Homo sapiens: one gene and its partner. The protein of the gene in region 2 interacts with the protein of the main gene of each other region in a biochemical or structural test. Each region holds a gene or a part of one and is shown on either strand. Other genes may lie near its edges.

Region 1 (6,936 bases), on a different chromosome or scaffold from region 2:
CTCGTGATCCGCCTGCCTCGGCCTCCCAAAGTGCTGGGATAACAGGCGTGAGCCACCATGCCCGGTGAAGAAATATATTTTCTAAATAAAGAAACTAGTGAGACTGTGGAGAGATGGTCAGGGGGACAGAATGGCCTGGGAAAACCTGGTGAAGAGGGGGTGAACTGGAAGAAGGTAGAAGTCTTAGCTATAATGGGAGTAACATTCTCTGGGTACCGAGGGAAAACTGTGAGGAGATTTTAAAAAAGGAGCTAAAGTAGAATTTCCTTCTACTTTGCCAGGGTCCTGGGATCTAATCCCATAAAAGTGGCTGTATTTACATATACTGCCCAAAAGAGGGGGCAATAGGCATGCTTTCGTAGACCCAGCTGGCTGCCCATTTGAAATCTATTCTTTCCTTCTTCACTGAAGAGTCCTAAATTTGTTAGGAACATCAATTGCTCAGATAAAATAGATAATTTCCAAGGCACCCTTGGAGCTACCAGTCATGCAACAGAGGTCTAACTAATGGGATGTAAGTACAAACATGCAAGTGGAGCTTCTGGAAACTACTGTTTTGTTCTCTTTGCGTAGAAAGAGACACATATTTGCACCTTTTCCTTACCTAAGCCTATCCTTTTCACCCCTACTTTTGCCATCCTTGACAGCATCGTGGAGGAGTTACAGTATCAGCCCCGGACAGTTTTGTCTGTAGACTTTTCTACTGTAAGAAGAAAAAGAAACAGACAACAATAACAAAAAGACAAGCCCCAATTGAGTTTAAGCCACTGTTAACTTGGTATGCCATCAAACACAATTTTTTAAACCTAAACAATAGCTATGGTGTTTCACAGATTTGACATAACCAACAACAAATGGACCACTCCAATTTTTCTGGATAGTTAAAAAATAAGGCCTTCACACCAACACAGGTCCCAGACTGGCACTCTCGAATGACTAAGTTTGTAATTATTTCATCAGTTCCATACATTTATAATTAAGTACAGAGAAGATTAATGTAGATTCTTTATTGATTCCACCAATGTATTAGTAGATATGATAATAATAAATGGTATTTTTACATTCTCTTAACCAAAAATATAACAAATATTTACACTCAGTAAAAATACAAAAAGCATACAGAGGCACTGTCTTTCTAAAAGACATAAGTTTAAGAGGTATCAAAAAATAGGAGACAAACATTGCTTGTTACAGGATACCTTACAATCAATGAATTGTGCAGTAGAATTGCTATCTGATTATTACAGATGTGCAGTTTTGTTTCTGTCTTTTGCTGATTAGCTTACATGTCTCAATTTTAAAAGATCAAGTTCAACTGCATTCTGTGTATCAAAAATAAAGAAGCATTAAAAATGCACAACAAAAGTCAAAGATGAACCAGGATTCAAGTTTAAATTTGAACATGTACTGTGACACTTTTGACACTTTTCTGAAGATTTATCCCGTTTTTCTAGCCTTTAAGGTAATGCTGAAGGAATACATATACTTTAATATCACCTTTTTTAGAAACTTAAAATTGAATCAAAATAATCAGTTTTAAGGAAGCTTTTTCTCCTCCTTCCTTTTTTGTAGAGGAAAGAACACTTGATAAAAATTAGATTTGTTCTTAAAAACACCCATGATTACCATCACATTTTCAGCCTGGGAGAGATTCTCAAGGAGGTGATATAGATCGCAATGATGTGATTTATCACCCTCAAGAAAATTCACTAAAGGCTTTTTCTCCCCAAAGATCATATTGAAAGTAATCATTTGGAGTAAATTAGAATTATTAACTTTAATAAGCTTTTATGGAATCATGTACTGGATTTACTAATTCTCAAAATCTTTCACTATAAAGATATTTTGTTGAAACTTACTATTTGGCAAAAGTTTGCACTGAGCGTTAACTGCTTCAACAGTCTTGGCAGATTGAGAGTTGTGGCAGGAAGAGAGGGCACTAGTCTCTTCATTAAGATTATAAATTTATAAAACAAAAACAAATGGAGATCTGGAATTGGAGTAAATGCAGCTTAAGACTTCTCTTGTTCTAGTCATATGACAAACTAAGAGAAGGCAGGAATGTACCCTTAGTTAAAATATAAAAATCAAAACCTCATGATTTTTTAAGGGATACATACATAACAAACTACAAAGCATTTGGCTTTGGCTCCTGATCAATGTGATCAGCTGATCTGAACACTCACAGTTAAAGCTAGATAGATAAAACAAAGGCAGCTGTAAGGTGCAAGTCCAAAACCATAGGCCTCAACACTCTGTGCAAGATATTTACACTATTAAGGACAAAGACAGGTAAGGCTTCCATTTGGTTTGAAAGACCTGCTAAATAAAGACATTATGAAAACAGCACATTTTTCTGGGGAAATGAATATAAAATGGTGAGAGTAGACATCTGAATTTGATAAAAAAAGTGGGTATAGCAAAAATATATTTCACATTGTTTTGCTGTGGCCATGAAAACAAAATTATGCAAATCAGTGAAGGAAAAAATGTATAATCATAGGACCACTGTTTATAGGCCAAATCACTGAAGTGTAACTTTCAAACTAGGATTTTTGGTTCAGGTTATTTCCCATTTCAAAGGACCAAGAAAGCTATGGAACCACCAAGCCTCATTCTATCATACCTGCGATTAATTTCTAAGGCTTAAGTTTCAGATTAATGTTTCTTTACCACAGGAATTTTTGAAATGCTATTATTCCTAAAATAAAGAGACAATCATGTTGATGGGAAAGATGAACTACTACCATTTACCACTTACAACTGATTCATGATTTTAAAATGAAGGGGGATATGCAGGAAGACAGACAGCAGAGACAGCTAGGGAAAGACAACACATTTCTATAAAGGAGGCCACAAACCAACTAAATCCTATGTGGACACATACGGACAGCCATTCAGAAGTAAACCCCTTTTGGCTCCAAGTTGATCTGGGTAGTGCACGTTAATGGCTTTGGCTTTTTTTTTTTTTTTTTTTTTGGTAATTACAGAAGTTTATTAAAATTTCACTTGCTTTTACATTAAAAAAACTGAAAAAATTAAACTTAATATATATAAAATATATTTAATTTGCAAAAATGTGAAAAATCTGCCTCATCCAGTAAACAGTCACTGAAATTTTAATTAAGAGTGCCATACCCATGAGGCTGGAAAAGTATGTCCTCTCAAGGGCTAAAAACTGAGAACCAAGAGACAATCATTTCTGTAACTCCAGCTCCTCTTTCTCCCACAAAATGTTACTGCAGCCAGCTGAGAGCTGCAGGGTATGTCAGGTCAGACACAACCTGGTGCTATGAGATGTGGGGGAGGCATGCTGCAGAACACTGCATAAAGTCAAATTCGTCTTCATTATTACAACACCCATGATAAGAATTTCTTTAAAAAAAGTATTCCATACTTGAGTTATGAGAGATTTTAGTTTTGGGTTTCTATAGACCAGAACTCTCTAGAACCCAGTCTCTATTTGTTGGATCTATACTTTCAGTTACAATTCGATGCAGCATAACTTTCACTTAAGGAAGAATTTGTATACATGTCATTTAACATCAAAATTTCATTCTGTGGAAATTAGGGTTCCCACCCTCCTCCCCAAACTACTCCCTCCCATTTCCCAAAGGACTGACAAGAAACCCTGTGGCAGCTTCATTTGGCCTTCCACACCATGACCAGCAGGTTCCTAACACCTCAACTGCAAAGGGCTTCCTATTTCTCTCAAACTGAGACCTACATTGCATTGGTGCTACAGATCAAGTCACATCTCTGTGTAGATCAAGCATATCACCTCTGTAAAGATGACTTCTGTTTGGTCAGACCAGAGACAATTTTATGACCTCAAACATGAATATCAGCTAACAAGAGCTCTCAAATACAAACAAAACCACAACAATTCAAATAATAAGTTATTTTTCAAATATACAAGAATATCCTTGGTATTGGCAGACAATTTCAATTTGTCCTTCAGCCCAAGCTATGGCTTGGAAATAATAATGCCATTATCTTTAAAATAGCTTGTTAAAGAAAAATCTATAGCAATATACACAAGGATCACTCTGAGTTTACATTTTTTCTGTAACTGTGGTCCCAAGGCAGTTCCGGCGTGCAAAGTGGAGACTGGTATCCAGGCATAGCATCCATTGCTCAGGAAACTATTTATCTGCAGAAATTAAATGAAAGGAAGCATAACTCAGGTCTATTTCATTGCTCGGAGTAGAGGGAATAAAACCTCTGGACTGGTTGTAGCAATGAGCTGTTCGTTAGCAATGGCCTGCAGAATCATGAGGTGGTTCTTGCCCATTCCTCCACGACTTTCAGTGGTTTTCAAATAGGTCATCCAAAGGCTAGACTGCTGAAACTTGTTCATTTTCTGAAAATAAAAAATATATAATTAACTGGCAGATCAGCATATTAATGAGATCCTAATAATCTAGTTATCTATTTAGAAAATCAATGTCAACAAAGAAATCCTCTCAAACATTGCATCGAGGCCCAGATTTTATTATAATAATACCTATGATTTCTGATCACATTGAAGGTTGACAATAAACTGGAATTTCATGGTTTTTAATCATTTTATTACTCTTGTTTAAAAGCATAAATTTTCATTTATTTTCAATAAAACAATCATTTCTCAAACTATTGGCACAGGTACAAAGTCAGTCAAGACTTTTGCTAATAAAAGGAACTATATCAATAGAATCATTTCAGATAATTTGGCATTTGAAACACAGTTTCAAGTTTCCATGCATTAAGGTAAAATACAATTCCATTAATGTTAAAAGTATCCCATTAGATTGAGCCACTGTTTCATCAAAGATAAGAATATTCCATTTGAGCCACAGGGTACTAGGCACACAGAAATAGGCAGCTTGCCCATTTCATTTAAAAAATACACCATCAGTGCGGGGTACAGTGGCTCACACCCATAACCCCAACTTTGTGGGAGACTGAGGCTGGCAGATTGCTTGAGTCCAGGAGTTCAAGACCAGCCTGGGCAACATGGTAAAATGCTGTCTCAAATACAAAAAATTAGCTGGGTGTGGTGGTGTGTGCCTGTAGTCCCACCTACTTGGGAGGCTGAGGAGGGAGAATTACCTGAGACCAGGAAGTTGAGGCTGCAGTGAGCCACGATCATGCCACTGCACTCCAGCCTGAGTGACACAGCAAGACCTTGTCTCAACAAACAAACAACCCACACCATTGGCTGGGTGTGGTGGCTCACACCTATAATCCCAACACTTTCGGAGGCTGGGGTGGGAGGACTGCTTCAGGCCAGGAGTTCAAAACCAGCCTGGTCAATATAGTGAGACCCTGTCTCTACAAAGGAAAAATTTAACAATGAGCCAGGCATGCTGGTGTGCACCTGTAGTCCCAGCTACTTGGGAGGCTGAGTTGGGAGGACTGCTTGAGCCCAGGAGTCTGAGGCTGTAGTGAGTCATTATTGTGCCACTGCACTCTAAGCTTGGGCAACAGAGTTAGACCCTATCTTGAAAAATAAAACAAAACCAAAACACTCCCCCATACTATATTTAGGAACTTTTTTTTTTTTTTTGGAGACAGAGTTTTGTTCTTGTTGTCCAGGCTGGAGTGCAATGGTGCGATCTTGGCTCACTGCAATCTCTGCCTCCCAGGTTCAAGCAATTCTCCTGCCTCAGCCTCCCGAGTAGCTGGGATTACAGGCATGCGCCATAATGCCTGGCTGATTTTGTATTTTTTTAGTAGAGACGGGGTTTCTCCATGTTGGACAGGCTGGTCAGGAACTCCCGACCTCAGGTGATTCGCCCGCCTCAGCCTCCCAAAGTGCTGGGATTACAGGTGTGAGCCACTGCACCCTGCCGGCAGGAACTTCTTACTTTTTAACAGAGATTCAAGGCATTTAAAGAAACAATTACTAATTACCATAAAATACCAAAGTAAAGACCATTTAATGTGTTCAGCAATTCATTTAAGAGCCTTTAAGAGAGCTTGTCAACATACCATCTGCTTCGCTATCTGCATCAGTCACATCTCCTAGTTTAGGATGGAATGGCTGCAAATTATGCCTCTGAGGCTGAGTTACAATCTTCGATGGAACACAGGCCACGAGGTTGCTACTGAGAGAAGCTGGTGGCAGTCTAGAGAGGCTGTTATGCATCATCTTTGACCTCTGCACTGCCACACTATAATCTGGAGGTTTTAGGTGTGTGTGGGGTCCTTCCTTTAGGTCCGCTAAAGAAATCCCCAAATATCCTGGAGGAGTGGGAGGTGGCTCCCTATACCTATCGTCCTTCTTGGGTGAGGTGACACAGTACACTGGCATGAAAAATAAGCAATGAAAATGTTAATGAAAAAGAAATGGAAAAAAAAAGAAACCACCCCACAAACTTATTACAATGACAAAATACAACTTAAAAATAGACAAAATGAATAAACTTGAATGATGGCAGATCAAAAACATTTTTTAAAAGTTTAATAAACAAACCTCTTTTTAAAATACATAAACAACTATATTAAGTCCTGTAAACATTAAATAGAACGAGAGAGTTGAAGGAGATGACACTGATGACAAGCTTCCTTCTGCAATTCAGCCCCCATATCACAGAAGTACATGACAACTCCTGAAGTCACACCAGCCCTAAAGATATCAGAAACATTTAAAAGTTCACCCTACACACCGATTCTCTGTAAACTGGGAGACTTTACATAGAAATGACATTTGGGCCATCTGTTTAAGGGCTGTTTCACCTTCTCTCTGAGACATGAACCAATGTTTTCTGGCACTCCTGGGCAGATTAGTTCTCAGTCCTAGCATATAAACTTTAACTTTGCTGGTACGGAGGAACTAATTCCTTCAAGAACTTTACTTCTGGCCAGGTGCGGTGGTTCACGCCTGTAATCCCAGCACTTTGGAGGCCGAAGTGGGTGGATCACCTGAGGTGAGAAGTTTGAGACCAGCCTGGC
Region 2 (8,127 bases):
ATCACATGTTGACCAGCCTCCTGGATCTAGTGAGTTCTCAGGGAAATGTGGCTTCCATAATATATTTCACATCAGATTTAACCATTGTAATCTGTTCTGCCAATGAAATGCCCCCAAACAGAGTGTGTCTCCCTGAAAGCAATTGAAAAACATACCTGCTCATGAGCATTGTGTAGTTTGTACAAGCATACTCATGTGAACTGAATGGGAATGCATTCTTGTGCAATGCTGGAATGTTCTTAAGTGTCCAGAGGATGTGCATTGAGTTCCAGAGGCTCTGTACCTGCCAGGCCCTGGGCAGGCATAGAAGGTACAGTCACCTTTATCTGGAGACAGGTAAAAAAGGAGCTGGAGGAGTTCCCTGAGACCTGGGACACCTGGCAGGTACCCATTGTCTAGGGACTCAGCAGAGAATTCAAGCTTTAAGAGGAATTTTCTTGCTGGACTCTGAGTCCCTGTCAGCCCTCCTAAGTCTTAGATCATGCCTCTGAGCCCTGTAGTACTGAATCAATGGGGATGCTTTGGCTGCAAGTAACAAAACCCAAATAACAGTAAGTAAGATTAAGCAGAGCTCAGATCTCCCAAAGATGCTCTCTGCTCTTGGAAGGTCTCTGTACACAGGAATGGGATATCAGTGCCACTTCCAGCAAGTTCCTGCATGGGACAGGTAGCCATAAAGGCTGAGTGTCTGGAGTTCAGAGTAATAGGTTTTGTCTTCTTGAGTCACAGCCTCTTTAATATGTTGATGAGAAGCCCAGGGAACGTTGATGTACAAAGTTGGACATATAATTCAGGGGATTCATGGATCTCTGAAAACCAGCCCTGGATCCCAGTTTAGCCATCTCTGATCTAAAGGCACGTGACTTCTCTAATGTTCATGGCAGACCTATTCTGTAAGCCCATTGTGCAGCCAAGTCAGCATGCCATTCCAGTGCAGTGTGAGAGGGCAGAGATGGGGGCCAAGAGTACAAATAGAGTGGGACAGTTGTCATTGCCCAGCCTGTGAGTTGAAGTCTGTGCAGTCAGCCAGTGGGTCTGACAAAGAGGGCAGTGCTGGCACTGCCTCATGCTTCCGCAGAGGTGATGAGGTTCAGGCTGAGGTGGAGACCACGCTGCACTCGCCATGCATTCAATGGTGCCCCATCTCTTGTTCTCTAGGAAGCATTCCCGCTACCTGTGTGATGCAGTTGGTTCCACCTATTCCCAGAGACTCCACCCTGGCCCTCCTTGCCCTGGCCCCCAGCACTGAGCCCCTAGGGCCATTTAGCTGGCCAGCATGATCTAAGACAGCTTTCTGCAGGCATTCCTCTTGTAGGAGTCATGAAGCAGCAATGTGTATTTTGCTTCTTTTTGTTGTTGTTATATTAAAAAATATTTTTATATTCTAGTCCAATCCTTATTATTTGATTTTTTTGGTTATATGTTATATATAAAAATGTATTTTTTGTATTTTGCTTCTTAATGTCCCTATCATTGTCTTTAATATTCTTGGTAGCTTCACTAGGTGGGGACTGCTGCATGACAATGTGGGTCATCACCGGTTGCTGAAGTGACCTTCTGAGTCTCAGAGGGGTATAGTCCTCGCATCAGGCTACCTTGACGGATAAAACAATATGATTTACATATGGGTTGTAGTGCTAGTAAGATTTTGGAGAGCACCAATAATGAATTCGGCTGTGCAGCTTGTAGTGGCCAAGCAAAGGAGGGTGGGTGGAGAGTTGGGAGCTCTGGTTCTGGCCTCTGTGACCATCTGTAGGGCCTTGTCTGGATCCTGTGCTGCCTGGGCCCAGGCTGCATCTGTGACTTCTCTGCCCAGCCCTCAGTGTCGTCATGGGGATTAGATAAAATATACACGTGAAAATACGCTTGGGAGGCCAGAAAGGGCTGGAAGAATGAAGACCACTACCAGTATTCAAGCAACCTTCGGAGGACAGAATCCTAGACCCAGAAGGAGCCCCCTGAGTGTATTAAGTCGAGTCACACCCCGTAGAGCACATTTCTCATAGTGGTGAGGAAGATGATTTTAGGTGGGACACAGCATCTTTCATTTTAATAGTTATATGCTGGTTTATTTGAATGTATTATAAAAATACAGGCATCAGAACAAACTGGGAGTTTTTTAATGGATATTTTGCCCAGATTAAGGCTAAAGAAGTATTTTAAGTAAAAAAAAAGAAAATTTTTAAAAGTATGGTGGTTTTCAGATTAAGCTAGTTATAGTACAATAGTAGACAAATATGGCCCAAATGGGAAAGTGAGCCCTTGAGGAAAGGCTGGGAAACTTTCCACAAGGGGAGTCCTTCCTTCCCTGACAGCCCATTAGGGGTGTGTCTTTGACTTCACCTGGACCCTTCTAGAGACACAGTGTCTCTACCCTTTGAGTCAGTCCACTGCATTTGCGGATTCTCTCATTGTTGGGAAGTTCTTTCCCTTCTTCCCTTAACCTGTCCCACATGAACCTTTGACAGTCCTGCTTTTCTCCACCATGAGCAGCTTTACTTTCTTCAACTGCTCTTCAAATGTCATAGTTTAAAAACAGCCCCTCTGTATGTCCGTCCTTTCTTCCATCCATCCTTGCAGCCACCCACCTACCCGTCCATTCATTGATCCATCTCTCCATCCATCTTTCCTTCAGCAAAGACTTGTGGGCTGGACCCTGTACTGTATACTTTATATTCGCTATCTCTAAGCCTCACAAAAATTGTGTTAGATGTAGTTAACCTTTTATAGATGTGGAAACCGAGGCTCAAGGAAGTTAAGTAGGTCACCTGCAGTCATAACCTGAGAGAAGCAGAGTCAGAAAGGAATCTGGCCATGGTCTGTCTCTTCCTGAAGTGCATGCTCCTTCCGTTAGACCGTGCTGTTCCCAGCACTGGGTGACCAAAAATGTCATGATCCCTTCTCTCCTGGTGCTTAGGGGACCTATCCCATGGAGGTGTGGCTCTACATAATCAGTGCAGTGGGCAAAGGCCTCATGAGGAGCAGGGATGGAGCAGCCTGTGCACAAAGATGTGGTGAGGCAGCAGAGGTGCAGAAGACGCTGGCTGGCAAAGAGAGGCAGCGAGTCCCTCGCTGGCAGGAGTCTTCCCTGACTGTCATTAATCTTACAGTCACAAATGAACCCCTAAATCATTTGTGCACTTTTTTTTTTAATTTTGAAAAAGAAAAGTGTAAAGGGTAGTATAACAAATACCATGTACCTATTACCCAAGATGAACAGATGTGACCATTTTGTCTGCACTTGATCCTTTTCACAGTAGGGCTGGACTTAAAACCAGACCACTCATCCTTTGCCCTGGCCAGTTTGGCCCATCCTCAGCCTGCAATGGGCTTTTGGGAGCCTTGCTCCTGAGTTTTCATGTATTGGCTCTCTCTTGGGGCTTCATGTCCTCAGTTAATGCCAGTGGGCCTCCCTAGAAGTTGTTGACTAAAGAGGCTTTTGCTGCTTCTGACCACATTGTGGAGAAGCCACTCTGGGGAGAGTGTGTGTTTTTGGCTATGATCTTTTTCAGAGAAGTTCATCTACCCTCACAAACACCTGCCTTGACCATTGTGGGTTTAGCCAAGCTGTAGAGCATGGTTTAGTCATAGCTGCCTAAACTGAACTGTAATATTAATGATAGGTTTGTATGTTTGGAAGACAGAGAAAACATATTCTCTTTTTATAATTATATGACAATGATAACAAAATGCTTTTTGTTGTTGTTAGCAGTGAAGTCTCACTCTGTTGCTTAGGTTGGAGTGTGGTGGAGCAATCATAGCTTATCACAGCCTCGAACTCCTGGGCTCAAGCCATCCTCCTGCCTCAGCCTCCTCAGTAGCTGAGACTATAGGCATGTGCCACCATGCCCATCTAATTTAAAAAAATTTTTTTTGTAGAGATGGGGTCTCCCTTTGTTGTTCAGGCTCATCTTGAACTCCTGGTGTCAAGCGATCCTCCCACCTCGACCTCCCAAAGTGCTGGGATTATAGGCATGAGCCCCCACACCTGGACACAAAATACATTATATACTCTAAAGTATAGGATTACTTTAAGAGAAGGAAACTAAAAGTATGATGGCTTACTTTGTAATCCATAACTTCACAGTTTTCCCTTCCTGCAGCTTTCACAGAAAAAACCAGGTGCCTGGTACTGGGTCCTTCTCTCTGCCAAGCAGGAGTAAGGCGGCAGAGCCAACCCTGCATCTGCAGTTAGAAGCTCTCCATGACGACAGGACGCAGCTTCTCACCCAACTGTTTGCAGCCTTCTCCTTTCCACCTACTGATTGACTCCTGAGCTGAAGCCTGGTGTTATCCTGTTTGCATGTAGTTTGCCATGAGTTAGAACAGTGAGTAAAGCTCTGCTTTTTAAAGCTGTGCAGAAAGATTCAAAAACTTCTGGAAAGGCTTTCTTATCCAGGGCAGATTCTTGTCAGTCCTTATTGGGGACCGAGATTTCATCTGGTTTCATAATAGATAGTGGGGACCTGCGGGAGACCCCAAGTCCTCTTCATTAAGTGCTGAGAATGTCTTGAAACATTTTCCTTCCCTGAGTTGCCCTTAAAGAATAACACCACCAGGCTGGATGCAGTGGCTCACGCCTGTAATTCCAACACTTTGGGAGATTGAGGCAGGAGGATCACTTGTGGTCAGGAGTTCAAGACCAACCTGGCCAACATGGTGAAACTCCGTCTCTACTAAAAATATAAAACTTAGCTGGGCGTGGTGGTGTGTGCCTGTAGTCTGAGCTACTCCAGAGGCCAAGGCAGGAGAATTGCTTGAACCCGGGAGGCAGAGGTTGCAGAGAGCTGAGATCGCGCCACTGTGCTTCAGCCTGGCGACAGAGAGACTCTGTCTCAAAGAATAAAAATAAAAAATAGCACCACCAGATCCTTTTCCCTCATTCTGATGGAGATGCTGCAAAAGCCAGCGAAGGCTGGGTGCTGAGAGACCTCAGAAGGCCCTGCTTTACTGGGGCTTATCTTGCAATGGAAGCCGTACCAGTGAAGGCAGTTGAACATATTATACAACCAGTGCCTATGAGATTATGTGGAAATCCACATATGTGTTATACTTACAGGCATACCTTTTTAAAGACAAGTTTGGGTTTAAAAAGAAACTACTTGGCATACTGTATATTAGGCTGGCCCTAGTATACCAAGTACACAGATTAAATGTAAAAGTATTTGTGGGCATGTGGATCTGTGGGGAGATTGCTGGAGTGTAGTGGATTCAGGAGACTCCCCCACCCCTTTAGGAGCTGACCATTTATGGGGGGTGTTGGCGGCAGATTCTTGCCTCTCAAAAGCATTATGTATTCATTTCAAAAGCAAAATTAATTTTGGTTCAGTTTAGCTTTTTTTCCTGATCCTTTAGAATTTCAACGTGCCTTCTTGAAAATTCTCCCTTTTTAGATAACCCACAAATTCATTTCTTTATATTTTCACTCCACTGGAAATGGAGGCTCAAGGAGGAGACAGGCAAAGCCGTCTTTCTTGGCCAACACTGCTCTCACCAGTCTATCATGGTCTTCTTTCAATGTCTGCTTTATTATAACCAGAGATGATAGAAGGAGGGTGGGATCACTGTCCCGAAGACTTGGGGGCGTATATTTTTAAAAACTTCTATGAGCTATGCCTCCTTAGCCTTCCCTCTCCACCCACATTCCTCAGGTTGAGGTTCCTGGGGCAGAGCTGGAAGGCCTAGTCTGTCTCATGCTCCTGCTGAGGAAGTCCAGCCCAGGAGAGGCCAGGTGCCCTGGCACTCCCAAGCAATTAAGGCCAGCTGGCATCATAGCCTTCCCATCCACCCCTACTCACTGACCCCGTCCCCCCGTCCCACCCACCGCAGTGGACAGCTGCCTGAATCCACTAATCTGGGGCTGGGTGGGTGTTTCCTGCATGTTTGAGATTTTAGGAGGAAATCAAAATAAAGAAACAAAGCCTTTGTTTTATTTCTGGACTCCCAACTGGGTATGGCTGGAGGGATGGAAAGCAGGGAACAGGAGGAGCAGGTCACTTGGCACTTCAACAAAATAACCATTCTAATAGAGCATTTAACAGGAACTTTTTCTATTTAGGGTTGGGGTGGGTAAATAGGAAAGACGGCAGGGCTGGGAGAGCCCCTTTGTGTGGAAGGAGAAGGTGGGGCCGCCCTTGCCCCAAGCGGGGCCTCTGGCAGTGCCTGGTGTTCAGGCAGGGAGGGGTCTGAGGCCACCCAGCCGGGCTGCAGAATTGGCAGCCTGGGGACTCAGGGACTTTCAGTCCTCCCTTCCTGAAGGAACCCTCTGCTCCAGTTCTGTCCCACTACTTGTCTGTGTGAATCTCCACCTCTATAGCCTCCTCTTCCATATCTGTAATGGGAGTATCCCAGCCACACTCTGGCCTTTCTTCTCTAGTCCAGTTATACTGGGTCAGGCTCTCACCTGACATGTGGAAATGAAGAGGTACATCCCCCAGTATTTCTTAATTCTTCCAAAGGATTTTCTCCTTGTAGAAATTCTCTGAGGGTTTCATTTATTTTCTTTAAAAATTGCCCAAGTATTGATGACAGCCCTCCCCATCTGCAGTATTTCTGAAGATTTCAGGGTATGGGCCATGCCCACTGGCCGCCTGGCCTCCACTCCACTTTGCCCCATGTGCATACAGTAAGGTTGGCTTCTTCATCTGCTAAGCCACTATTATTGCATGTAACAGGCATCCACCAAGGGCTTTTAAGAAAGGGAGTTGTCTGCAGCCCAGATCAGGGCAGAAGTTAAAAATGAATGTCAGACACCCTCCCCTTGCTTGCTCACACCCTTGGAGAATGTCTCTGTGGCTGTCTCCTCAAACCTAGTTTACTGCTATTTTCCAGGGACCAATTTTCCTGGATACTTTCCCCCAGACCTTCTGAAAACTCCAAATTTTCATTACTTTTGATTGCAGAACAAGGATAACAATCTGTCTTAGACTAGGCTGTGGGCTGCCCTTGTCAGATGTAAAGGGGTCTGGGCATGGTGGCTCACGCCTGTAATCCCAGCACTTTGGGAGGCTGAGGTGGGTGGATCACTTGAGGTCAGGAGTTCGAGACCAGCCTGGCCAACATGGTGAAACCCCATCTCTACTAAAAAAATACAAAAATTAGTGAGGCCTGGTGGCATGTTCCTGTAGTAACAGCTACTTGGAAGGCTGAGGCAGGAGAGTCGCTTGAATCCAGGAGGCAGAGTCTGCACTGAGCCAAGATTGTGCCATTGCACTCCAGCCTGGGCGACAGAACAAGACTCTCTCAAAAAAAAAAACAAAGATATAAAGGGGCCATTAAATAACTCATCTAAAAAAGAATTAGGCACTCTAGACCTTACCTTTACCTACAGTAAGAACCAGCAGAAGTGCTGGGATTATTAAGCTATCATTATTACTAGCCAGGTCAAATCAGTCCTCTCCTAATGACCAGGGCAAAGCCAGGTGTTATTTTTTCCCTTTCCTGTTAGAACATTTTGTAACATAAGGATTAGAGATGATGTAGATTGACAATATTTATTGAGTACCTTCTCTGTGCCAGATATGTGCTGGGCATTGGAGATACAGTGGAGAATAGAACAGAGGGTGGGCCCTGCCCACATGGAGGTGACGGTCTAGTGGGGAAGATGCATTACATGTTTACGTCTTGTAAACAACTAACTAGCAGTTAAGTGCCAGCATACAGGATGCTGTCAAGGCAGACAGCTGGGTGCTTTGGGAGACCCTGATAGTAATCTCATATAGTCTGGGGTGCAGTGGGGGTCAGAGAAGTATATTTAAGGTGCTTAGCATGTGGTCAGGGCTTAATAAACGGTCATTATAATGACCATCCCTGGCCACAGGGCCCAGCCTGGTTCCGCCTCCAGCTGGTGGCTGCTACCACCCACCAACAATAGTTTTACACAGAGAGGTTTTTCATTAGGCCAAGGTTATACAGCTAGCAGAGGGGCTTTGATTCATGACTTTTTATAAAAGTGCTGTATGTAGAAAGCAGAGGGGTGGGAAGCTTCCCTCGACCCCCCAGCCAATACTGACCTTTGGACAGGCCTTGCCTCGCAGGAATGGAGCAGCAAGCTGGTTACTGAGGAGAAAAAATGCAGCAGTCATTTAGGGCTTGGGGAGGGAGATGTGAAAAGTAGCCTTCTGCTGA

The links. Proteins that work in one complex are often made in the same cells at the same time.
Region 1: the proteins of MRAS (region 2) and RAPGEF6 form a complex in vitro, tested with the Homo sapiens proteins (one study listed by BioGRID).

The regions. Positions count from the first base shown.
Region 1 is NC_000005.10:131,422,929-131,429,864, forward strand, and holds the end of RAPGEF6 (rap guanine nucleotide exchange factor 6), read right to left. Parts: intron 6,289-6,936; coding exon 5,974-6,288; intron 4,364-5,973; coding exon 4,338-4,363; 3' UTR 993-4,337; downstream 1-992. UniProt on the Homo sapiens protein: Guanine nucleotide exchange factor (GEF) for Rap1A, Rap2A and M-Ras GTPases. Does not interact with cAMP.
Region 2 is NC_000003.12:138,351,091-138,359,217, forward strand, and holds part of MRAS (ras-related protein M-Ras isoform 1 precursor), read left to right. Parts: exon of another isoform or gene 1-4,328; intron 4,329-8,127. UniProt on the Homo sapiens protein: Signal transducer in the Ras-MAPK signaling pathway that regulates cell proliferation and survival. Core component of the SHOC2-MRAS-PP1c (SMP) holophosphatase complex that regulates the MAPK pathway activation.